Linked DNA regions of Homo sapiens. The protein of the gene in region 4 interacts with the protein of the main gene of each other region in a biochemical or structural test. Each region holds a gene or a part of one and is shown on either strand. Other genes may lie near its edges. The genes, in order: HTRA3, PDZK1, SIPA1L2, CSPG4, PATJ, FRMPD1 and DLG2.

Evidence for each region.
Region 1: the proteins of CSPG4 (region 4) and HTRA3 interact in a test that uses a peptide from one of them, tested with the Homo sapiens proteins (one large-scale study listed by IntAct).
Region 2: the proteins of CSPG4 (region 4) and PDZK1 interact in a test that uses a peptide from one of them, tested with the Homo sapiens proteins (one large-scale study listed by IntAct).
Region 3: the proteins of CSPG4 (region 4) and SIPA1L2 interact in a test that uses a peptide from one of them, tested with the Homo sapiens proteins (one large-scale study listed by IntAct).
Region 5: the proteins of CSPG4 (region 4) and PATJ interact in a test that uses a peptide from one of them, tested with the Homo sapiens proteins (one large-scale study listed by IntAct).
Region 6: the proteins of CSPG4 (region 4) and FRMPD1 interact in a test that uses a peptide from one of them, tested with the Homo sapiens proteins (one large-scale study listed by IntAct).
Region 7: the proteins of CSPG4 (region 4) and DLG2 interact in a test that uses a peptide from one of them, tested with the Homo sapiens proteins (one large-scale study listed by IntAct).

What each region holds. Positions count from the first base shown.
Region 1 is NC_000004.12:8,286,754-8,290,253, reverse strand, and holds part of HTRA3 (serine protease HTRA3 isoform 1 precursor), read right to left. Parts: coding exon 3,471-3,500; intron 1-3,470. UniProt on the Homo sapiens protein: Serine protease that cleaves beta-casein/CSN2 as well as several extracellular matrix (ECM) proteoglycans such as decorin/DCN, biglycan/BGN and fibronectin/FN1.
Region 2 is NC_000001.11:145,683,369-145,686,868, forward strand, and holds part of PDZK1 (Na(+)/H(+) exchange regulatory cofactor NHE-RF3), read right to left. Parts: intron 3,359-3,500; coding exon 3,109-3,358; intron 1-3,108. UniProt on the Homo sapiens protein: A scaffold protein that connects plasma membrane proteins and regulatory components, regulating their surface expression in epithelial cells apical domains.
Region 3 is NC_000001.11:232,623,634-232,627,133, forward strand, and holds part of SIPA1L2 (signal-induced proliferation-associated 1-like protein 2), read right to left. Parts: intron 1-3,500.
Region 4 is NC_000015.10:75,710,049-75,714,178, forward strand, and holds the start of CSPG4 (chondroitin sulfate proteoglycan 4 precursor), read right to left. Parts: upstream 2,801-4,130; 5' UTR 2,708-2,800; coding exon 2,620-2,707; intron 1-2,619. UniProt on the Homo sapiens protein: Proteoglycan playing a role in cell proliferation and migration which stimulates endothelial cells motility during microvascular morphogenesis. May also inhibit neurite outgrowth and growth cone collapse during axon regeneration.
Region 5 is NC_000001.11:62,116,480-62,119,979, reverse strand, and holds part of PATJ (inaD-like protein), read right to left. Parts: intron 3,449-3,500; coding exon 3,301-3,448; intron 2,849-3,300; coding exon 2,762-2,848; intron 1-2,761.
Region 6 is NC_000009.12:37,737,954-37,741,453, forward strand, and holds part of FRMPD1 (FERM and PDZ domain-containing protein 1), read left to right. Parts: intron 1-2,124; coding exon 2,125-2,931; exon of another isoform or gene 2,932-3,399; intron 3,400-3,500. UniProt on the Homo sapiens protein: Stabilizes membrane-bound GPSM1, and thereby promotes its interaction with GNAI1.
Region 7 is NC_000011.10:83,471,845-83,475,344, reverse strand, and holds part of DLG2 (disks large homolog 2), read left to right. Parts: intron 1-2,567; coding exon 2,568-2,618; intron 2,619-3,500. UniProt on the Homo sapiens protein: Required for perception of chronic pain through NMDA receptor signaling. Regulates surface expression of NMDA receptors in dorsal horn neurons of the spinal cord.

The DNA.
Region 1 (3,500 bases), on a different chromosome or scaffold from region 4:
CGACGTGGAGCCCCGCACAGGATTACGGGAGCCCTTGGTGGGCGGGCGCTGGTGTGGGAAAGACTCAGGCCGCTCCTCTATTCTCTGTGCTCAAGAAGCTTCAGTCAATGGCAGAGAGAATGCCAGGTGGCGGAACCAGGCCTGCACATTGGAAGGTGAGGGCCCGGAGAGATGACATTTTCCATTGCTGACCGGCCGAAGAGGCAGAAATAACGTCTGAAATCTCTGGGAGGCCGTGAACTGAGGAGGGTCAGCCCGTCCTCCCTGCACCCAAGGAGGGTGCACAGGTGAGGCCGTGAACTGGGGAGGGTCAGCCCATCCTCCCTGCACCCAAGGAGGGCGCACAGGTGAGGCCATGAGCTGGGGAGGGTCAGCCCATCCTCCCTGCACCCAAGGAGGGCGCACAGGTGAGGCCATGAGCTGGGGAGGGTCAGTCATCCTCCCTGCACCCAAGGAGGGTGCACAGGTGAGGCCGTGAGCTGGGGAGGGTCAGCCATCCTCCCTGCACCCAAGGAGGGGGCACAGGTGAGGGTCAGGAGCCTTTCCCATGGCTCGATTTAATGCCTAGGGGCTAGGAGGGCGTTTCCCACCTCAGCTCATGGCCATGGGTGCTGACCAGGGCCTGCAGGACATGAATCACACTAGCTCTGCTGGCACCCATTTGCCACAGGTGGCTGGTGGGGCGTCCTGCTCAGGCCCACCTGGATACCACCCCACCAGTCCTGCCAGCATTCTGCCACAGCCGCCGGAAGGGGAGACAGACCTGCCCCTAGTCTCGCTCTCCTCTTCCCACAGGGGTCCTCGAGCGGGGGTTGCAAACTGGCCCAAGGCCCAAACGCTGTCCATTGCCTGTTTTGTGAATCAAGCTTCACTGGAACGCAGCCACACCCACCTGTGCAGCCTAAGGCTGCATTTTTGCCACAGCAGAGATGCGTGGTTGTGACAGAGACCACAGGGCTTGCAAAGATAAAATATTTACCATTTGGCTTCATGGAAAATTTGTTGGCTGGGCACCATGGCTCACACCTGTAATCCCAACACTTTGGGAGGCCGAGGCAGGAGGATTGCTTGAGCCCACGAGTTCTAGACCAGCCTGGGCAATACAGCGAGACCCTATCTCTACCAAAAATTTAAAAATTAGCCAGGTATGGTGGTGCATGCCTGTAGTCCTAGCTATATGGAAGGCCAAGGTGGGAAGATCCCTTAAGCCCAGGAGTTTGACGCTGCAGTGAGCTGTGATTGTGCCACTGCACTCCAGCCTGGGCAACAGAGCGAGACCCTGAAAAAAAAAAAAAGAGAGAGAGAGGGGGAGGAAGGGAGGAAGGAAGGAAGGAAGGAAGGAAGGAAGGAAGGACGGACGGAAGGAAGGAAGGAAAATTTGGGGGTGGGGTGCAGTGGCTCATTCCTGTAATCCTAGCACTTTGGGAGGCCAAGGCAGGGGATCACCTGAGGTCAGGAGTTCAAGACCAGCCTGGCCAACATGGTGAAACCCATCTCTACTAAAAATACAAAAATTAGCTGAGGGTGGTGGCATGCACCTATAGTCACAGCTACTTGGGAGACTGAGACAGGGGAATTACTTGAACCTGGGAGGTGGAGGTTGCAGTGAGCCGAGATCCTGCTACTGCACTCCAGCCTGGGTGACAGAGCAAGAACCCGTCTCAAAAAAAAAAAAAAAAGGCTAGGCACGGTGGTTCACGCCTGTAATCCCGGTACTTTGGGAGGCCAAGGCAGGTGGATCACCTGTGGTTGGGAGTTCAAGACCAGCCTGACCAACATGGAGAAACCCCGTCTCTACTAAAAATACAAAAAAATTGGCCAGTGTGGTGGCACATGCCTGTGATCCTAGCTACTCGGGGGGCTGAGGCAGGAGAATTGCTTGAACCCGGGAGGCGGAGGTTGTGGTGAGCCGAGATGACGCCATTGCACTCCAGCCTGGGCAACAAGGGCAAAACCCCATTTCAAAAAAAAGAAAAGAAAATTTGCCAACTCCTGTCCGTGAGCACACCCCTCAGTGGGTTTCCTTAACTTTAAAATGGAGGTGATGCCCCCAGACTCAATCGCGACCGTGAAAAGTCTGAAAAGCAGGGAAGGGTCCCCATTAGGGGAACTCCTTGGAACCATTAAATCTCCTCTCCCTTGATGGGGCAAGAGGAAACCCCCTTGCAAAAGATTTCATCACAAATGCTGTAAACGTTCATTCAGAAAGAGAGGAAGCCAAATTCAAACCAGCCAAGGTGAACTTCCCAGTCCAAGGGAAGCTCCGGGTCCAACGCTGGTGTGAGACATGGGACTCAGTGACCTCATGGCATGGGGAGCTGCAAGTAACTCAACTGTGGTCCCCAGGGTCACATAAGCATGGCATTGGGCAAGACAAGAACAAGCTGGAGGGAGGCCGGGGTCCTAGCTGAGCGGGCCAGCCCTGCTCCAGTGCGCTGTGATCTTGGACGAGTTACCTAACTTCCAAGCCTCAGTTGCCCCGTCTGAAATCCCAAGATAATGAGGTCCCTGATATGGTTTGGCTCTGTGTCGCCACCCAAATCTCATGTCAAATTGTAATCCCCATGTGTTGGGGGACGGGCCTGGTGGGAGGTGATGGGATCATGGGGGCAGACTTCCCCCATGCTGTTCTCATGGTGGTGAGTTCTCACGAGATCTGATGGTTTTAAAATGTGTGGCATGTCCCACTTCACTCTCTCTCTCTCCGGCTCTGCCATGAGAAGATGTCCCTGCTTCCCCTTTGCCTTCCGTCATGATTGTATGTCTCCTGAGGCCTCCTGGTCATGCTTCCTGTACAGCCTACAGAACTCTGAGTCAACGAACCCTCTTTTCTTCATAAATGACCCAGTCTCAGGTAGTTCTTTATAGCAGTGTGAAAACAGACTCATACAGGCCCTTTCCTCCCAGGCCTGTGGTGAGAATTAGAGGAGTGCAGTCAGCGCCTGGCTGAGAGCAGGCCTTCCAGAAACAGCCGGTGGAGGAAGAAGAGGATTCTGGGGGCCTCAGTGCAGGCCTCTTCTGGGTCAGCTGGTGGGAGGTACAGACGTGAAGGTGGAGGGATGGGGTCCCTGTCCCAAGTGTTCCCCACGGCAGCCCCCTGGCCTCCACGCCCAAACCCAGATGCCATCCCATGGGGCAGGTGCATCCCCAGTAGTGGGCCCAGGTAAGACAGTGAAGAGCCTCCGTGGGGTGTGATATGGGACCACAGCCCACCCACTGTGGGCCACATGCTTCCTGGCTCTGCCCTGCACCTAGCGGCTCAGGGAGCGCAGGACAAGGAGTCCAAAGACCTGGGTTCTAGGTCTTTTCCAAGCCGTGACCCTGGGCCAGCTGCCAGTCCTCCCTGGGCCCAGTTTCCTCCCCCTGGCTGATGGAAGGTGGGGCTAGCTTGCCTCTGGGTTCCGGCGTCTGGGAAGAGGCCACCATGCCCAGCCCCAGGTGCTTCCGCCCCTCCACCCACGCCCACCCACCTTGGGATGGATCTTGATGGTGGCAATGTC
Region 2 (3,500 bases), on a different chromosome or scaffold from region 4:
TGTGTCATACGCCCTTTCTTTGCATTTGTAGAATCAGAAAGCATCTTTACCATTCTCTCCTCTTCAGTTTGTACTATTATATTAGCCATCGTATGCTGTGGAGTCATCTCACCAATGTAGGCTAACAAGGACAGGCACAGGAGGGAGGGAAGAACCCGAATGCATTTAGGTGGTGAGATTTAGGTGCTACTTATAGAAATGCTGTCAATTCTTCAAAGATATTAATAGAGCAGTTCCCCCTTAACCATGGGGGATACATTCCAAGACCCCCAGTGGAGGCCTGAAACTTTAAGATAGTATACCGAACCCTATATGTTTTTTCCTGTGCTTACATACCTACAATAGAGTTTAACTTATAAATTAGGCACAGTAAGAGATTAACAATAACTGAGCTAATCTTAGCAACCTCAGCATACAGTATTTTTTCTTTCCTTATTAAATCGAGAACTTTTCACTTAATAGAAGCACTTTACAGCCTTTTTTTTTTTTTTTTTAACAGATGGAGTCTCGCTCTGTCACCTAGGCTGGAACGCAGGGCCGCAATCTTGGCTCACAGCAACCTCTGCCTCCCCGGTTCAAGCGATTCTCCTGCCTCAGCCTCTCGAGTAGCTGGGACTACAGGCGCCTGCCACCGCGCCTGGCTAATTTTTGTATTTTTAGTAGAGATGGGGTTTCGCCATGTTGGCCAGGCTTGTCTCGAACTCCTGACCTCAGGTAATCCACTCGCCTCGCACTCTCAAAGCGCTAGGATTACAGATATGAGCCACTGTGCCCGGCCACTTTACAGCTTCTCTTTGTCATATCTGAACTGCCAGCATCACTATCCTTGCATTTTTGGCTTTTTTTTTTTTTTTTTTTGAGACGGAGTCTTGCTTTATCGCCCAGCCTGGAGTGCAGTGGCGCAATCTGAGCTCACTGCAACCTCCGCCTCCCGGGTTCACACCATTCTCCTGCCTCAGCCTCCTGAGTAGCTGGGACTACAGGCGCCCACCACCACACCCGGCTAATTTTTTGTATTTTTAGTAGAGACAGGGTTTCACCGTGTTAGCCAGGATGGTCTCGATCTCCTGACCTCATGATCTGCCCGCCTCGGCCTCCCAAAGTGCTGGGATTACAGGCGTGAGCCACTGCGCCCGGCCTGAGCTATTATTTTTTATTGATACATAACATTTGTACATATTTATAGGGTGTGTGTCATATTTTGATACCAAGAGCATATAATGAACAAATCAGGGTGTAATATTTAGGACATCCATCCTTGAACATTTATCATTTCTTTGTGTTGAGAATATTTCAAATCTTCTTACAGCTATTTTGAAATGTACAATACATTGTTGTTAACTACAGTCACCCCACTGTGCTATCAAACATTAGAACTTATTCCTTCTCTCTGTGGGTTTGTACCCATTAACCTAGCTCTCTTCATCCCCACCCTACCCCACACACATACCCTTCCCAGCTGCTGGTATCTCTCATTCTACTCTCTACCTCCATGAGATTCACCTTTTTTAGCTCCCACATATGAGAATATGTGATATTTTTCTTTCTGTGCTGGGCCATTATTAAGCAAAATAAGGATTATTTGAACACAGTACTTTAATACCGTGACAGTTGACCTGGTAACTGAGTAGTAAGTAGTAAGACTAACAGGCAGGTAAGCACATGCCACGTGGAGATGCTAGACAAACAGAGGATTCATGTCCAAGACGGGGCAGGACAGCACAAGATTTCATTACACTACTCATAATGGTTCACAATGCAAAAATTATGTATGGAATTTTCCATTTAATATTTTCAGACCACAGTTGCCTGCAGGTAAGGTAACTGAAACTATGGAAAGCCAAACAGGATAAGGGGGGACTCTTGTATGTCAACCTAGGCAAGGGATCGCTTGCTAATGACTACATAAATCACTTGTAAGGAATGACAATAACTTAAACTCTGCTTCCTTAAACACTCAGCATTTCTCCTGCTACCTTGTTATATATTTGTCATGAAGAGACCATTTTCCTCATAAAGCTAACCTAAACCATTCACCATGTGCATTAGCACATGAGCCAGATGAGTAGAATCTGAATTATGATTTTCTTTTTTTTACCACTTTACTGATAATAGGCTTCTAAGACGTGCCAAGCTTCCTTTGACTATACACACCACTGTGTTTAATAACTGACAGACCTGAGAAATACCCCTTATCGTGAGTTTACATCTCTTGGTACAGGTTAAATAAGCCTTAGAAACTATTTTAAATTTACCACTGGTCTGCTGCTGTATCACTTGCCAAATCATGACCTACCACCAGTGCTTCTCCAGCCCCAGAAAGAACATAGGCAGAGGCAGTGTTCAAGAAGGAATTGACCAGCTAACACAGCTCCTCTGGTTCCAACCAATACCCCAGAGCCACGGTCAACTGAACACAGGTTAGTCTGCACCTCTGAAATTCTAGAAATAGAACTTCTGGTGCTTCCTGATGGTCAGGGTTTCTCAAATCACTATGTACCTCTTAGCCAGAGCTCAAAGATGCGCCTCAGAACAGGTGGGGCTGAGCCGCAGCTGAGGGTACTATCAAAATGTTACAGGAGGGTGGAAATTTTTGCGGTATTCTCAGCAAAGGTAACAGTGCCTGGCACATCAGCAGGTGCTCAAGAATTTGTTGAATAAATGAATGACTATCTGGGCACTCAGATAAAAAAAAGATACCAATCTTACTCAAAAATAGCTATTATGAAGAATCTCATTTTTCTTGCCTTTTATTCCTTATTCTGCCCTTCATTTTCACCCTAAGAGGGCTAGAAGCATCAACCCTCTGGCCCCCTGACCTCAAAGAGTCCTCAAGTGCCAGCCTGACAAACACTCAGGGACAGGAGTACCCAGTGCCCCCCACCCCCACTGCTGTCCAGTGTCCCTCCCCCATTGCACAACTGTGCAAGGCAAGGGAAAGGGCAGGGAGGGAGTGAGAGACGGAGGGAGGCAAGCTGTTGCAAGCTATCTATAGCAACTGAAAAGTCAGTCAAAGAAGAAAAGTCATTAACCAGTAGCATCTTTGTTCTGGAAGCCTGTTGTCTGTGCCCTGCCCCTGCCTCCCCCTGCTCCCCAAAAAATTCTCACCTTGGACAGTTTTCAGAGAGAAGCCATAGCTGCCTCCTTCCTTCACGAGATAGCAGAGCCGGGGCTGGGTCCAAGTTTGCACACCTCCATTCATCACAGGGGAAAGTATATTATCACTCAAACCTTGCTCCTTCTGACTTTGACCCAACTCTTTCAAGTCCACCCGTGTTTTCACTGCTTTCTCATAGGAATCCCCATCCAGAACTAGTAAAGTCACTGAATTCCCACTCTTTCTGACCAGATCCACAACCTAGGAGGGAAGAAGAAAAAGGTAACTTTAATAACCCTCTGCCAACTGCCAGAGGGAAATGCTGACCATCTGGCTCAATATCTGGCCCTGGAGATGCTGCTAGTTGACCCTTGACACCCAAGTAGAAGCAGGTAGTTCCTCA
Region 3 (3,500 bases), on a different chromosome or scaffold from region 4:
AAACAGCTGAGTTCAATTAGAAACTTTCTAAGGAGAATAGCATCGCCATTACATTAACCTCCTACCCCTCAATAAATGAAACCCCAAACCAAGACCCACAAGCAATTCTGGAAGAAAACAGGCCAAAGTCAGAAATGTCTTCGGGAAAAAGAATAAATACACAGTAAATATAAGGCCCATCAAGAGTGGAGTTTGTCTTCCGCTTGCCTCACAAGACCCTACAGGCTCCCTAGAAATTCCATTTCTCAACTGCTATAAACTCTAACCAGTGATAGTACAACAGTGGTCTCTACACAGGGGCCACACATTTCAAAGATACAAATGCCCTTGAGATGCAGAGAAAATACTTCTACATCTATTTATTTTTAATATTAATCTTCTTAAAATGTACATTTGTTTTATGTCCATAATATCTTAGCACAGTAAAGTATATGTTTATACATACAGATATATTATACATATACACACACACAAACGTGCATGCAGATATGTATACATGTATACGCATACATACATGAACACTTAGACAATTGTGTATAGATGGGATGCACGTTGAAAAAAGTTTGAGAACCTTGAGAACCTGCTAAAAAGAAACCACTGTTTCTTGCATTAGGCCATTTAAACACCTGAAACAGGTAGCATTTGCCCTGTACAAAGAATCAAAACTATAATTCCTAAAATTACTTATTAGAAACTTCAATACGGAGAGGACAGTATCCCAAAGCTATTCCTGAACAATGTGAATACCCACTGTTCAACAAGGAACCAAATGTGTTATCAAAACCACCTCCAGAAGACAGTGAAAGTAGTTATGCTGACTTCACAGGACACTATGTCTTAAGCATTAACCAGAACTTTCTTTTAAAACTCCACACAATAGTTCATCTCAGCAGACATAATCTTTTATTCACCCAGGAGTTCTTACTTTCCACAATAACAATTTTTAACACTGGCTCTTTACCTAGATATTTTTACTTAAGAGTTTGAATAAACTACCAGATAGCTTACTTCGGACTGTTCTGATTTCTTGAGGAACTCAACTAAATGGGGATATTTCTCAGAAGATTAAGCAAATATGTAGAAGTGAAAAATATGGAGTAATCTAATGGGCAGAGTTCAAGACACCCCTTTTGGCTAAATGTTTATTAGTAAAATAGGAAGAGAAGTATATCAACCAATTAAAACAAAACCGGAAGAGACTGTGGTGTTCTTCCCCACTATCTGAAAGCAATTCAACACAAGAGAATACCAAACCAAAAAATAAGCTGAAGAAAGTCCAACAATATTCTGATTTTTCCTAGAAGCACTGCAGTTCCTAAGGCCTCCGGAGGTCACAGATCACAGTGTGACCCTAGTGTCTCAATCCAGTCAGTCATTTAACACATTTTCTTAATCATATGCAGAAGAGAGTGCTCGTTACTAGGGACACACTGAAAATGAACTCATTATTACTCAGCATAACTTGGTCAGTAGAACCAGCAAAGGAGGTTTGACACACTCTTTCAGGATATCCATGTGGAAAGGTGGAGCTATATGGGCTAGTTATAAGATATGAAGAGCATTAGTAGTTAACTATAACCGAGAGTGTGACTCCTTGTAAGCCTCGAGGGAAGCTTCCAGAGACACACTTCGTGTTGTTCAGCCAGTTTAACAATTTCATCACCGGCTTAAGTAAAGATATAAAAGAGTCTGATCTAATAATGTACAGACAGCATTTCTTTGGGAGGACAGGTAAAGGTGCCAAATAATATAATCAAATTCTAAAAAGCATGATGGAAAGAATCAGCTAAAATAAAGCAAAACCACAGCGCAATAAATGTTAGGTTTTGCAATGACATCAGCGCAAGATGGAAAGACGAGGTTCAATGGCAGCATGTGATTAACGGCTCGGCAGGTTTTAGCGAAAAGGAAACTCGTTGAGTCTGGCCACCAGAAAAGTAAATGCAAACTTGGACTACATCAGTGCAAGCAACATGCAACCTATGACAAGACACTCCTGCTGTACTCTACACAGGTCATGTTCACGGGTCACGTTACACCAAGAGCCCAACTCTGACAGAGACTGAAGGATTTGTTCTGTAGGCCACCAAGGCAGTAGAATTTGAATAAACAAGCAGAATCAGATTTCAATTCTATAGGCCAAAAAACTTTCTAGTACTCAAAACCATTAAAAGGTGGAAATCACCACCCGTTACTTGCAATGTTCAGGTATTACCGGAAGACCACTTACAGAGATTATATAAAAGGATCCAAATATCAAAGAAGGGTTAGTTGAGCTACTCAGTGATTTCTAAACCCCGGTCCTTAGTGAATTTTTCATTGACCCATGCAAAAGAAAAAAGTGTCTGTGTGGGGATAGATATAAATCCACGAGTGGGGTAATTTTAACACAGCTCCTCTCTGGATAGGAAGAACTCTCCTTTAAGTCTGACAGCATACATATTCTTCCCCCTTTCCCCACCTTTTCTCTTTTTTGGTACATCAAAAGGATTTTGACGAAATGCATTGACAATAGGTAGTAACTGCTGTTGTCAATTTTAAACACACTTATGTAGCAACATTAAATGCTGACATATCTGACAATCCCTAATATTTGCTTTTTTTTTTTTTTTTCATTTTACAGGTAGACGAAAACAAAAGGTATAGGAACAACATGACGAGACAATCTTTAAGGTCCTTTCTGGCCCAAAGGAGCATGACAACTAGACTCGACTTGCTGCATATTTTCTTCCTTCCTACCACCCAACTTGGCTATCTAGTACTGGGGGAGAAGAACGAACCAAGGAATTGGGTTGCACTAAATATGAAATCTCTCAAGAAGCAGAACCTCAACAGTGAGTCAAGATCTGGCTCCCTTCTACAGCTGCTGTTCTTTGGAACCAAAGTTTATGAATCCAGTTCAGAAAGGATCAAAATAATCTATGTCTAAAGTTGGGAAGCTTTTAAATTCCTACCACATTGTTACCACACTTTTAAAAGGAGTCACAGCTACATGCAACTGGAACACAAAAAGCAATTTCTGAATCATTGATTTCAAGGTAAACCAAGTAGCTATGACCCTCATGCAAAGCATTCACATACAAACTTACTATAGGCCAAGGCAAAGAAATGACATAATCATGAAAAATATAAACATCCCAGTCAGACAGGCATTTTCATTACTCTAATGCGTTCGTCTTAAACCTTAAAGAAACCCCAAATTTTGGTGCTGAAAGGGATCATGAAAATAGTTTCATCCAAATTCATTTGTGACAGGTGGTAGAGGCAGGAAGCTCAAGGTTCCTGTCTGTGCCTAAAGCTTTTTCTACTCTCACTCTGCAAATGAATTAGGCACATTAACAGAAGTAGAAAACCTAGAACATGGTTCACTATTCTCTAGGACTGTACTTTGTATTTCATTGAAGTTCAAAACAGAAAGAAAAAAAAAAGCAGCTTTTCAATTAACAATACCCTAGTCTAAATTTTCTTCAAATTCAGTGTGTCTTTAAAAGGATTTGTAA
Region 4 (4,130 bases):
AGGATCTACCCTGCTTCAATTTCTTGTACCTGGTGTCCCTGTGGCCCTGCTCACTAAGATACCCCCATCAGTTCTGAGTCCCCACCCAGGTAACACACAAGCCCTCCCTGCCAGGTACTCCCCAACCTGGGTCCCACTTCAACCCCTCACATTCTGCCTTTCAGTCAGTGATGCCAGGGAAGAGGTGTGGGAGCCACCACCCCTGCCTGCCCTGTGCTCACTGTGACCCCCCGACTAGAATGTCACCTCCTTCCTTCTCTGCCTGTCCTTCCAGTATCAGCTCAAATCCAATCTCCCCCAATGCTTGGCTCTCTGCTGGGGCCTCCCATACAGCTCAGAAGGAGCTGGACACCGCATCTGTCACCCACACTGTCTCAGTGGCCCAAGCCTAGGCCCCGACGCAGGCTGGGAGCACCCTCGAAGCAGGGCTGGGGGCTCTTCCTGGGCTGCTGGGGTTCTTGGTGGAACTCAGAGTACTTTTCTTCCTCTCTGGGGCCTCAGTTTCCCTCTCTATACAAGTGGAAGATTGGCCCAGATGGCCTCTAGGGTGCTGACTGCCAGGCCCCCTGACCTGGATGCCTCAAATGTTGATGAGTAGAGGGAGAGCCTCCCAGCACGCCTCATTCGGATACGGGAGGACGAGGGCCTTTGCAGCCAGGGGCATCCAGGAGGGGTGGGAGGGACGCCTTCCTCAGGCAGGGGCTGCCCCTACTGCAGAAATCAGGGCAGGCAGCTGGACCAGGAGTGGTGACAGAGATGGGTTGCTGGACGGGAGCTCTCACAGCCCCTCCTCATTTCCGAGTCCTCCTAAAGGCAGGGGATGGTGTAACTTTATAAAACCCCACAGCACCATGCTGCTCTCTTGCCCTAAAACCCTTGTGGCATCTCCTTTGCCAACAGGGCATAAGGCCGTGGGCTTCATTTTGCCATTTAAGGCTTCTGTGCCCCAGCCCAGTGGTTCTCCCTGGCCTGTGCTCGAAATACGCCTCCCAGCCAGGCTGCTGGCCTTCCTGTCTCAACACCCCTCTGCTTACGCCCACCTTGGTGCCTCTGAGTCAGCGCCCCTGCCTGGAGGACTGACTCCCTTCCCATCCACCAAGGCTTGGTTTGAGGCCCACCCTGTGTCCTGCCCCAGCTTGCCCCTGCTTTTCTCCCCTCTGTACTTTTCATCCAGATTTTTGCTGTTTGAGATTTAATTTGCCTTTCTGCCTCCTGAATGAGTCTCAGTTCAGCCTCTCAATTTCCCGTGCCCCTGCGAGCCTAGCACCATGCCTGCATGCTGTCAGGGCTAAGAAGGTATTTGAGAATGGCTCTCAGTTGAAGCCCAAGGAGGTGGGGGTACTGGAATCCCTCCTTGGCTGGAGGCTGGGGCCTGAATGAGCTGACCACCCTGGTCACCTTGGATGCTCCCTTCCCATCTCCCTGGCGGCCCAGCCCATCCCTCAGGCCCTGAGATCTTAGGGGATCTGGTCCCTGCAGGAACAGGGAGCCTGGAGATCCAGCCCTGATTCACCCCGCGGGGGTCCTCCCTTGACTCACTTCCCTTCTGGGAACCATGTGATGCCCTCTTTTAGAGCTGGCTTCTCCATCTGAAGGAGAGAAGGGTGTGGCCTGGGCCCTTGTGAAGGAGGCTCAGGCCCTGCCTTTGCTCCATGTTGCTCTTGGGAATGATCTCGAAGGTGTAGCTGAAGCACTGAATCACACGTGGGTAGTGATGATGGATGGGCCCTAAGGCCACAGTTCTTATGGCATAACTAGAGCTGCCTTCGCTGAAGGAAGAATGCTGTCATGTTGGGGTTTCTGGCATCGGGACAGAGAGGGGATATATCCCAGCACTTCTCGGAAAGCGAACTTCCATTCAGCCTCTGCTGGGTCAGGCATCAGTGCTGGGATGAGGAGGTGTGGCAGGGGGTGGTCCAGAGCTATCTGTAGGACAAGCCCCGCTGAGGGGCACCAGCTCTCCCTCTAGGAGGCTGAGAGTGGGTAGTGGGTGGGGGGTCCTGCCTGTCACCAACAGGAGGAGGGAGAGGAGAGAATGAAGAGGGGAGGTGGCAGATAGACGGATCTGCAAGGAAGCAAGGGGAGGAAAGAAGGGGCAGAGCTGGGGGGCAGCTGGAGGGGTGTGGGGGTGCTCCTCACAGGGGAGGGCAGGGTGGCTCATTCCTCGTTTCCCACCTTGTAGCACTCCCCATTCCTGGCCCAGGGCATCTGAAGCTGGAGGACCCACTTCTCACTGTCGCCGGGTCCCTTTGGACCCCAACATACTCACCCCAAACTTGCCTGGCAAACAAAGCTCGGCCAGCATTGGGGTGGCCCCACTGGTGTCTCAGACAATCCAAACGGGCAAAGCCACGCCCTAGGCAATCCATGCCTGGGGCGCCTGCTCCCGCCCCTAACTGGACAGCCTTGGCTAGCTAGAAACCCCATAACCTGAGATAGCGGGGTCCCGTGTCCGCCCCAGGATTGAACCCCTGGCGACCCCAGCTAGTGGTGGGAGAAGCGCAGCCTGCTTGACTCCCGATCTGGGGGCCACTTCTGGCTCCTCCTGTCCCTTTTCCCTCCCGGAGGAACCCCTCTAGTTCCGCCAGGCTGGGTCGGGGTCTCAGGCCCCTCACTCACCCGCGGATGCAAGTCTGGCCAACATAGTCAGGGTCAAAGCCAAGGCCAGGCCGGGGGCTGGAAGTGGGGGCCGCGGCCCGGACTGCATCCCGGCGGGCTGGGCGGCAGGACTTGCGAGGAGCCAGCGGAGTCCTGGGAGCTGGGAGCTGAGTGGAGCGAGCGCGGCTCTGCTCCTGGGCGCGGGCCGGCTCCGGGTGTCCGCGCACTTAACTCCGGGGGCGGGGCAGGCGCAGACCCGCGCGCCCGCTCGGGTTTCAGGCTTGGACTCCCCCACCTGCCCCCACCCTCAACCTTCTTAAAGGGCCCGTGCGGGGCTGTTCCTCTCTGGGGCAGGGGTGAGGGGGCCCTTGCAGCTGGGCCAGACCCCAGCCCCACCCTAAAGACTTAGAACAAAGTCATAGAGAGGCCCAGACACCCTGAACTCTGGCCCCAAGAGCCGAGCCCGGGAGACCCCCTCAGGGAGGAGGCATGAACTGTCCCAGCCCCTACTTCCCTCCTTTCTGCCTTTGCGGGAGTTCAGGAGACCCCTCCACAGGCACACTCCAGCCTTAGGAGGAAGGACAGACACCAGCCACCCTCACAGGCGGCTTTTGGGCTGCTTTGCCTCGGAGGTCCCCTAGGAACTTCTCCAGACTCCAGAGGCACCACCCGAGGTCCTGTGGGGCACTGCCCATGGCTGCAACAGTGACCTTCTCTGCCTGGAAGGGCCTCACCTCAGTCTCCCTGTCTGTAAGGGAGAGATGTCTGGATTTCCTCGCAGGGCAGAAGAATTCTCAGTCCCGCCATGACATTTGCCTCAAAATAACCTTGCAAGGTGGGTGAGGAGCATCCCCTCCCCCATTTCATGGAGGACGAAAGTGCAGCTCAAGCTGAAAGTGGCTCTTACAAGACTCCAGGTGGAAAGTAGGTCCCTGGCCGTTTGGTGCCAGAAGCCCAGGCCTCCTGACCCCTGAATCCGGGTGTTTCAACTTCCCGAGGCTGCCTCCTGGAAATCTGGCCCTGGATTTGGCTTCTACCTAACAGCTTCAGGCTGGGGCCCTTCTGCTGGCTCCCTTCCAGGCAGCAACATCAGCCTAGTCCCAAACAGGAGGAGAAAGGGCAATGTTACTTAGCTTCCGGTGCCTAGAGGATCTGCGTGTTCTCTGTCCAGTCCCAATGTTACCGGGCCTTGGTTTACTTCCTCCATTCAGGTCCCTCCATCTATCTGCTCCAGCCCATCTCCAGCCCAACCCCACCTTGCACCCTCTTCCCAGCTCTTCCCTTTGACCAGTAACAGCCCAGCACTTCATACTTTGCAACGAAACTGAGACCTGTTTTGCAGATGAAGAAACTGAGGCTGAGAGAGATTAAGGGACTGGAGCTAGTCTACATAGCTGCTGAGATGTGGGGCCAGGTCTTTGACCCTAAGTGCAGTGCTCAGGTGTGATGGTGCCTGGTCCATGTGGGGGTTATGAGTATTGGTCTTGAAACCAGAGAGACCTGGGTTCAAATCCCAGCTCCCTTACTTGGTT
Region 5 (3,500 bases), on a different chromosome or scaffold from region 4:
TGTTTGCCAAGACCTTTATTGCATTGTATTGTAATTTTTGAGGAGTCTCCCTCTGTCACCCAGGCTGTAGTGCAGTGGTGCAATTTCAGCTCACTGCAACCTCCGCCTCCCAGGTTCAAGTGATTCTGTTGCCTCAGCCTCCTGAGTAGCTGGGGTTACAGGAGCCCACCACTATGCCCAGCTAATTTTTGTATTTTTAGTAGAGACAGGGTTTCACCAGGCTCTTTGGCCAGGCTGGTCTTGAATTCCTGCCCTCAAGTGATCTGCCCGCCTCGAACTCCCAGTGCTGGGATTACAGATGTGAGCCACCACGCCCGGCCCCAAGACGTTTATAAAAGTACACTTTGCCTGACTGTGTTCCCTTAGTTGGCTGAGGAAAAGATCTCGCAAGTATTTTTTCCTCTGTGGAGTAAGGAAATTTCTTCCTGGTTTGGGGGAAAGTCATTTTAAAAAAAGACACTTGGTGGCCCCAAAGCTAGAAGTTATTTCTCTCTTAATGAACTCACTTTCTATGAATTAAGTCAAGAGCTTATTCTCCTTAGCGCTCAAAAGAAGGCATTGATCTCCCTATTTTGTAACTGCTCAGAAGGAAATCTGTGTTCCTACAAGATCCTGATTTTTTAAATGGGTCTGGATGTAAAAATGTTTGGCAATGGAATCTTGTTTTTGCCCACCAGGGTCAGTCTTCAACTCATCATGATGGGAAGACATTTCCTTTTCACAGTCGGCTACCAGCCTTCTTCTAATTAGCCAAATAGGGCAAACTCTTCTATCTCACCCATAATTTTAAGCACAAGGTGATGATAAGATATATTTACTGTTTTTAAAAATTGAATTAAACTCCTACCCTCTGAAATTAAAATTCTGTGTAAGAAGATTAGGGCAAAGTATTTGATACTTTGTCCCAGGTTTCCAAAATATGACAACTCACATTCATATACCAGGTAAGTGGAGACGATAGGTTTTTTTTTTTTTTGATATTTAATGATGTAGCTTCTAAATTTGGTAGTTCTGTCTTTGAGTGTGAACTTAAAAATTATGAAGATGCGGCTGGGCGCGGGGGCTCACACCTGTCATCCAGGCACTTTGGGAGGCCGAGGTGGGTGGATCACCTGAGATCAGGAGTTTGAGACCAGCCTGACCAAGATGTTTTGAAACCCCGTGTCTACTAAAAATACAAAAATTAGCCGGATGTGGTGGCGGGCACCTGTAGTCCCAGCTACTCGAGAGGCTGAGGCAGGAGACTCACTTGAACCCGGGAGGCGAAGATTACAGTGAGCTGAGATCGCGCCATTGCACTCCAACCTGGGCAACAGAGTGGGACTCCGTCTCAAAAATAAATAAATAAATAAATAAGAAGATGCTCACATACATCTCTCAAGAGGGACAGAAATCCATTTCTATCCACTACCTTACCTATCGATCAGTCCAAACTTTTCTTAAATCACACAAACACCTGTTACCTCTTTGTGCCTTTGTGTATGCTATTTTCCCTGTCTGAGATGCCTTTTCCTTCTTTTCCCCAAACTCCATTTGGAGTGAGATTCAATGGAACCTCCTCTGTGTAGCTTCATTCTAATCTTCTGTATACAATAAGGCTTTAATGAAATCATTCAACAAAGATGAGTCTTCCATTAAGGAAGAAGCCTGGCTAGACAACTGTTTCGTTTGTTGATATAAGTCTGGTCAATATCATCACTAACTATTAACTCATGGAATCCTACAGCAGCACCATGTCTTAGATATTTGCTGCCCATTATGTAAGCCAGAAATGAAAAAAAAAAAAAGTGTTTCAAACTTAATATGGTGTTTATTGGGTTTGACTGCTTTGAAGATTCCCTAAGACAAGCCAGCTAGTCTGTAATCCTATCTGAACAATGGTATTTTCCTCACTCATTTTTTAACACCAGTGAGGAACAGGAGGCAGCTAATAGCTTTCCAGAAGTAACTGTGTGCTAACTGTAAGATCAGAGCACCTTCTGAACAAAGGCCTTGGAGAGGCTTCAGAAATAAGGCAACCAGGGAGGGGACCAAAAGTCATGCTTTTAACCTCAAAACTAAGGCGGCCTATCCATAACCCAGAGAGGAGACTTAGGGGTCACATATAAGTTTCTATAGTCTCATTATGTACCACATGGGGCTAACCATACAGTCTACCATCTTGATTTTGTCAGCCATTACAATGAAAAAAATATAGTGAAATATACTTTGCTAAAAAAAAATGGCACTTACATCAGCTTTGCAAATAAATATAAGATGTTTGCTAACCCACAAAATATCACCCACTAAGCCCTCCCTCCCACAGGAAAAACCCCCACACTTGGTTCTCCTAGGAATATGCCATTAATTGCCCTCGGCATGTGTGAGTGGCTAGTCACAAGTTAACTTTATAGCAATATTTAATTGAATGAATAGAACAATGTTGTGCTAATGAGGGTCAAATTGCCACCAGATGTTGCCTTTTTTTTTTTTTAAATAAACACAGCTGTGTACATGCGTGCATAGGCAATATAGAACTAATAGAGAGAAAAGAGCTTCCAAGAAAACATTTGCAAGCAATAAAGGAGAGAAAAATCTAGGGATTAATGAATTTCCATCCCACCTTTCATTTTTATTTCAAACACATGAAAGTTCACTAAACTTGGTGCTGTGAATATGCTGTACATTAGATATTATTTCCAAACAACCATTTATTAAATGGGGAACTTTCTCCCAGTGGGGGCAGAAGAGTGAGTCAGTCTGATGAGAAGCCATCGACAACCTGACTGTTCTGTGATGTCGTCCTTGCGGAGGTCCAGGAACCAGCTCGGAGTCTTCCAATCTCTAGCTGCACAAGTCCCTGTGCACACTTGGAAAGGCAAGAAAAGAACAGAAATGAAAAGTAGTAGCATTTATATTCTGAAATATCTTAACAGAGCCTCTCCCTGCAGCCACAAATTATAAAAGGGTAATGAAAGCAACAGGCATAGCCCTAGAGAGAGGAGGATGAATTCTGTGGCTCCTGGAGGGCCCATCTCATCAAATGCATTTAAAGAACAGTGATGGATACTTAGAATTCTCACAAGTATGAAAAACTTGCTTGTGAAATCCCAAAGCAGGTTCCCTTTCATTCTGTTAGTCAATATAACAGAACTTTCTTTTAAAGCTATTCTGGCTCATTTAAAATAATCAGAGATTAAATTTCTAGTAAAAACTAGAGTTAGTATAAAATCCAACCCATTTTATAATCAAGCTAGACTGGAACAGTTCCCACTGGACTTCAGTTGTGCCAGCTGGGTAAAAAGCAGCCTAGCAACTCACCTTGAGGATGGTGGCCACTGTCTCCTGTGAGGCATTTCTCATGTCCTCCCCATTCACAGATAAGATCTGATCTCCCTGAATCAATCTCCCATCCAGGTCTGCGGCTCCGCCTTTCACGATGTCAGAAATAAACACTCCGCTTCCATTTCTGTTAATACCATACAGCAGTGCAGTATTGGCACAACCTAATATTTCCATGC
Region 6 (3,500 bases), on a different chromosome or scaffold from region 4:
TAAAAGAACTTCTCTGCAAGGCAGGTAAGACAGTTTCCTAGGCCAGCTCCCAGTTTCTGCCAGGCTTTTGCCTCAGCACCATTGATGCAGCATGAACCTAGGGCTGTGCTGATAAATGCTTAACAACTCCCTGCAGAGGGACAAAAACAGTTTGAAGGAATTGCCCAATTCCATGGTGTCAACATTCTCACGATGGGTAATTTCAGGCTACCACGATATGATGATACCATGATGAATGTGGAGATGGGAAGAGGTGATCAATAGCACACCACTGTAGAGTGTTTCCTCTATATGGATAAAGTAGAAATCAGCTCAAGAGAATAGGTACTAATACAATAAGTAAAACAGTTAGAAAGTGATGAGTTTGGAGTATCTGTTACCTTTGTTTTTATTTTTATTTTTTTTAGAGGCAGTCTCTCTCTGTCACCCAGGCTGGAGTGCAGTGGTGCAATCTTGGCTCACTGCAGCCTCCACCTCCTGGGTTCAAGTGATTCTCCTGCCTCAGCCTCCCAAGTAGCTGAGATTACAGACACCTGCCACCACGCCCGGCTAATTTTTGTACATTAGTAGAGATGGGGTTTCGCCATGTTGGTCAGACTGGTCTCGAGCCCCTGACCTCAAATGATCTGCCCACCTTAGCCTCCCAAAGTGCTGAGATTACAGGCATGAGCCACGGCGCCCAGCCTGTTACCTTTGTTGTTACACAATGTATTTATGAACGAGGGGTGACTCCTCAGAGTCTGCTCAGGGAGACAACGCAGAGTGGCAACAGGGCTGTTGTGGAGGGGTTGTGGGGGGGACTGCTGCTGCCTGTCAGAGAAAGTTCTCTAGAGGAAGAGGTATTGGAAATAGATCTTGAAGAACATGCTGGAGTTAACCAGGCACGGAAAAGGAAGACAGATCATTCAAGGCCGAGGGGGCCTGGAGGAATGACCCGAGGAAAAGGCCATGACCTGAAAGGAGCTCTCCCTATGGGTGGCTGGAACGTGGCAGGGAAGGCTGCCATGGGGGACTGGGTGCCTGAGGAGGGGCTGGACCATATTGCAAGAGGGGAAAAGGGAGATGGTGAAAAGAGATAGGAGCCCCACCACGAGAAGGGCAGCTAGACTACAGAGGAGACCTCAGCGCCATTCTGTGAGGGAGACACTAGACTGAAGGGGAGGTGTCAAGACCATCCTGTCGTGGGTACTAGACTGCAGAGGAGGGTTCAGGGCCATCCTGGGAGAGGGGGAAGAGCCTGCAGAGGAGGCCTTAGGGCCATCCTTTGAGGCAAGGGAGGACTAGACTGTGCATGAGGCGCCATGGCCATCCTGTGAGAAGGGCAACAAGGCCATACTGTGAGAGTCTGTAACTGTTGTGGGGGAGGCCAGGCTCTTCCCCGTAAGCAGGGCAGCCATCAGAGGGTTTAAGCAGGGTGTGATGAGGTCAGAGAGAAGTTTGAGAAAGATCACTCTGGAGGCTTACAGGAATAAAGAGATTGCAACCTGGCTCAGTGCTCCCCAGCCTCCTACCATTAATCCTTCCTGAGAACCTGCCGCTGGATGAGTTTTCACTGTCCTACAAAGCCCATAGCACCCATGGATCCAGAAGGCCAGGCTTTAGAATGGTGCCAGCCTAGCAGCCTCGTACTCGTCATAAAATTGCTAAAAATACAGATTCTCAGGCCCCACTTCTAGCGATCTGACTCAGTACATCAGGGGTAGGGCCAAGGATCTGTTGTATTTTTAAAATATGATTCCCCATCTGACTTTGACGCCCAGGCAGGATAGAACTGAGGTCTGGGGAGGGGCTTAGCAAACCTGGGCAGTGCTGCCCACACAAAGAGGAATCAAAGTAAATACCACATTTCCATGAACAGACAGTTCTCCTTGGAGGTGGGGATGGAGTTAATCCAGCCTCCTTTAGCTCAGAGAGATGTGGGACAGGCGGTCTGATAGCATGGGGAGAACATGGAAGCTGGAGTCCCTCGGATCCCGTGTTCGTCAGTATAGGACGGTCTTAGGCCAGCCACCCTCTGGCCCTCAGTTTTCTCGTCTGGCAGGGTTGGGTGGGGGTCAGGGGGCTAGAAGGACACATAGGTAGGAGAATTCTGTTGTGTAACTGTTGCTGTACCCTGTGTTGCAGGCTATGAATCCAGGGCCTGCAGTGACTCAGAGGAGTCCTCTGAGGTGGACTGCGTACTCGAACCTCTCTCTGACAGGCGCCTGGTGAAACTGGCACCCTGCAGATCACTCATAAAGGAGGAGCAGCCTCCTGGGAACAGCCCCACACCTGAGGTGGCTAGGAGGGGCCCCAGCACCTGCGGGGCCAGCAGCACGACAGACAGTGCCGAGTCCGAGGCGTCCGACTCAGCCAACACTGAGAGCCGCGGCTACAGGACCAGTGGCTCGAGTGAGTCCATGGACGCTCTGGAAGAGGATGACTTAGACACCTGCTCCTCCAGCAGGTCCACCTTCTTCCACTTTGGCTCGCCAGGCCTCGCAGAGAGCATTGACTCTGACAGCCAGGAGGAGAGAAGCGGGATTGAAACCAGTGGCTTCCTCTGTCTCCTGGACCTGGCCCAGAGAGCCAACCCCCAGTGCCAGAAGACAGAGTTTTCCGAGAGTGCTGCTTTGGAGACATTTGGCTGGGCACCAGAACTGAGCACAGTCAGGCTGGACCCCAGGCTGTATGAAGGCAGCCACGCTGACTACTACAGCCTGTGTTCCAGTGTCTCCCCGGCCAGCTACCTGAGTGACAGTTCCGAGAGTACAGCTTCCCGGCAAGGGGGAGCCCCGCCAGCCTGGGGTCAGCAGGGCTGGACTGAGGCCCAGCCCAGTTCCATGCTGGAACCCCTGGCCCTGCACCCACCACTGGCCTTTGAGGATGGCAGCTCAGATGAGGAATACTATGACGCGGCTGATAAGCTCACTCCCCCAGGCCCCCCGTCAGGTGAGCCGTCCCTTGCAGGTCTGCAGACACGGCAGGCAGCTCCTGAGTGCCTCCCGGGGATCAAGGCCTGGGGCCAAGCTTGAGAGGAAGGCACATGAGTGAAACAGGGTCCCTGTACACTTCTGAGGAGGTAGATACAGATTCCATGGACCAAATTTTAGGCATCGTGGCAGGCCTGCAAGGGAGGTTCAGACAACTGTGGCAAGCAGATGGGAGGGATTCATCCAACAGTGGGAATCAGGGAAGGCTTCCCAGAAGAGGGGGCAAATGGGCTGGGCCCTGTGGGAGGGACAGAATTTACAAAAAAGGAAAGGGCTTGACAGGAGTGCCCGGCAGAGCGAAGTGGCTATGTCATCACTGATCCTGAGGCTGCATTAAAGGAGGCCTTGAAGCAAGAAGAACCAGACAGACAGGCCGTCTGTGGCCCTGCAAGGCCTTCTGGGGTCCAAGGGACCCTGACATCAGAAGGTAGGGGATCTGGTGGCTGTGTTTCTATCAGGTTCCTCATACATTCCTCCACCGAGAGTGTGGAGGGTCTTTCCAAGCAGAACTGAGATCCTGGCAGGACA
Region 7 (3,500 bases), on a different chromosome or scaffold from region 4:
AAGCCCCTCAAGGCCCGCAAAGTGCCACAAAGACATGAATTTTCTCTCCTTCATCACAGTGGCTTTTTCTCTTTCCCTTTGTCTCTTCCTCATTACCCATAGGGCTTTTCATTCTTGGACATGGAAGTAAAAATTAGTTTAAGATGCTGAATTCACAGCAATTATGTCATGCCCACCTCCACGGGTTTCCCCACAGGCTTCCTGGGTATTACACAGTACCTGATTGCCACAAGGTCTTGAGAATTGGGGTGGCCCGGACATAAGGGATGCTGCCATTGCTGTCTACCAACACTACTGCTCTGAACCAGAACCAGAACCAGTGCCTTTCATAGAAAAGTAAACCAAGAAGTGATGGATAGACAGAGATAGAGAACTCTTGAACAAAATTAATCAAAGCTATGCTTTGCCCTAGTTGTCTGAATCGCAATCATACACACTGACATCAAATATCTTATTAAAGATTTGCCTTTAGAACGTTCCATCAGAATGATTTGCAAAGCCATTGGGAAGAGATTTTTATGGGAACTTGATGTGCTCTATTTATTTAGAGAAAACGATGCTTTCCAAAGTTAAATGACCATATTGACAGAAACACAAAATAGAACCTACCGTTGGCCTCATCACTCATCCTGTTTCCCATGACTGAAATCAGAATGCAAATTTGTTGACATCTTTCTTTATGTTAAGCACTCAATGGGGCACTGGAGACATGGTGATGAATAAAACTCAGTTCTCGCCTTTATGAAACTCCCAGCCTAATAAGGAGGTCCAAGAGTTACCTGACATTTAAAGCTTTTGTTATCCCATGGTCAGAATTCTTCCCTTGCACATTAATTGTTGAAGATTTCCCCTGTAAAGTTATAGTCTAAAATTGCAATGTTAGTCTACGATGCTTCTATCATTAAAACTATACTTTCTCCCCAAGAATTTTTACACTTCTTTAATTGACCCACAGCATTTTCCTGATGAAGTAATACTAAACTAAAACCTTGAATGCGTATACCCTCTACATCGCTCAGGCTTTAGATAACTGGGGGTTAGTAATCAATCACCTTCATGTTTTTTGGCCTAGGCTCTGTACATTTCAGTAGTTTATTCAAAGGGAATCATTCTTTTCCTGAGTACAAGAAATAGTGAATCTGACTCCTCACTGACCAAACCCCTGACCAATGTGGCAGAGTCCCCTGAACACTTCTGGGGTGGCCATGGGTACATACCACTTAGGAGGAGCATCAAGGTCCACTCTCTGTACCCTTAAGAAGTAGCTTGGCATGGTGGCGCCATTCTGAGCCCAGGCCCTCCTTGGGACTGAGATAAGATATGACTTCAGCCTGAGGCCATTTCTCACACTTGAAAAAGTAAGACACTCCTATCCCCATCCCATTCCAGCTACCCAGCCTCCAAGGAAGTCATCCAACTTCGCAGCTATACCCACATATTGCTCAATTTCCCCAAATCAGTCTCATTATCAAAACAGTCGATCATATTAACTCTTCTTATGAAATTACCTCTCTTTCTGTGGTGCTGTGGCTGTTGAAGGAGGAAAACCTGGCATTGATAGACTATGAATGTGCTTCAGGGGTGGGTGGTGAGGATATACAGCAAAGGTGAATTGCCCTTTGGTTTCAGAAGTTACCTCATATTCCACTTCTGCTCCACTATTTCTTCTAGTAGACAGAAAGTTCTTTTCAACAGCCCTAACCTATTGCTGTTCCAAAGGTTAGTCAATGCAAAAAAAAATGCAGACACTTCCGGGTTTGCAGGTGAAATTGAGCTAATCCTCTGACCAATTAATTCATCAATTATATAAAATAGATGATTGAAAAAATAAATGGCAAAAACCAATTTACTTTCTATGGTTATTTGTTGACTTGAGGTCCACCCTGAGTCAGAAGGCTTGTAGCAGATGACATTGGAGGGGCTGACATTTTACTACTGTGTCTTCCTTAGTTCTCTATCTGAAGTTTCAACGCACAGTTTAGCAGCAATTATAACCAATGATGTAGGACACACCTCAATTTTTGATCTTCATTAATTGACCCACAGCATTTTCCTGACGAATTAATATTAGAGTAAAACCCTGAGTGTCCTGATGAAGTTTTTATATCATAAATGAAATAAGCATATACTTGCTTTTGAACAGTGTGCTTCTTGGGGAAATAAAATAGAAGATGAAATAAAAGGTACAGCAATTCTGATTATGTAGCAGCCATCTATTGAATTGGACCCTTTCCTTGAACTAAATGGCTTCCTTTTAAGTAGTAATGCTTGGTGTAGAGGCCATGGCATTCCATTCTCAATGCCAGACAGAAAGAAGTCTCACAGGTCATTGCCCTGCAGCAAATAGCTAGCAACCAGTTATTACTTAGAGTTATGACTGTGAAAATCTGATACTAAAATGGTGCTAAAGAGTTTTATGAGGATGAAGTTATTTTTGAATGGTTCAAGGAGAAAGAGCAAGGAGAATTAACTCTGAGCTGTGTCTGTTTCCTGTGTTTCAGAGCAGGGCTTGTCTCTGTAATATATGACTGTTAGTTCACTGTGGTTTTCTTTCCTTCTCTTCTCAGGAGGACAAGAAGACCTCATTCTTTCCTATGAGCCTGTTACAAGGCAGGAAAGTAAGTTTCCCAGCACGCTTTCATTCCTAATTTCTGGGCCATAAGAGGTGACATCATTGAAGGAGGGAAAGAGTGAAGGACTAAGGAGAATAAACTCGGCTTAATGCTCTGTTGTCTTGAGACCGTACCTTACTCTTACGCTGTCTCTCACTTTCTCTCTCTTTGACCCTATCACCAAACAGACAACTTCCTGCTGAGTATGGGCACTAATAGCACCTAAGAGAAGGATGCAGCCCTCCAGATGAGTGGTCCTCAATGGGAAGGAACACATTCAAATTACCTAAAGAGCACTAGCTACGAGACTGGTGAATAAATTCTCCTGAGAGACTGATGTCAGCTCAGTATTGAGAATGACTTTCTAGCAGATCTGCCTAAGATGTAGGCTATCTGTAAGCTGCTGCTTTTTCCTGGAGGCATTTATACAGAGGCTAATTGCTACTGACAAGGATACTGCAGAGAGAATTCAAGCATCAGATGGGGACTTGTACCCAATGAACTCTCAGGTTCCTTCTAATCCCAGATACAAGGAAATCTAGAAACTGTAGCAAAGTATAGAGAGTATTTTGATCTGGGGAAAAGAAATCATGAAAACATAAGATGTTATTACTACTAACAATTACTTTTTATAGTCATATCTAAACAATAGCCAAACAGCTGGTTTGGATTCTTTTTTCTCCCACTCAGTTGACTAAATTCAGTTGTTTTGACATTATGTAGGCAGAGCCAGAGAGTAAGCAAAACTCCTCCAAATGTTTCTTTTCATCAACAGATACTGCAATTGCCTTTCCCTGCTAGTAGATTCCAGAAAGTAGGCACTGCCAATCTCCTGAGTGTTAAACATCAATTTCCCTATGCAAGGCTGTATGAGTAATTTATCCAGTG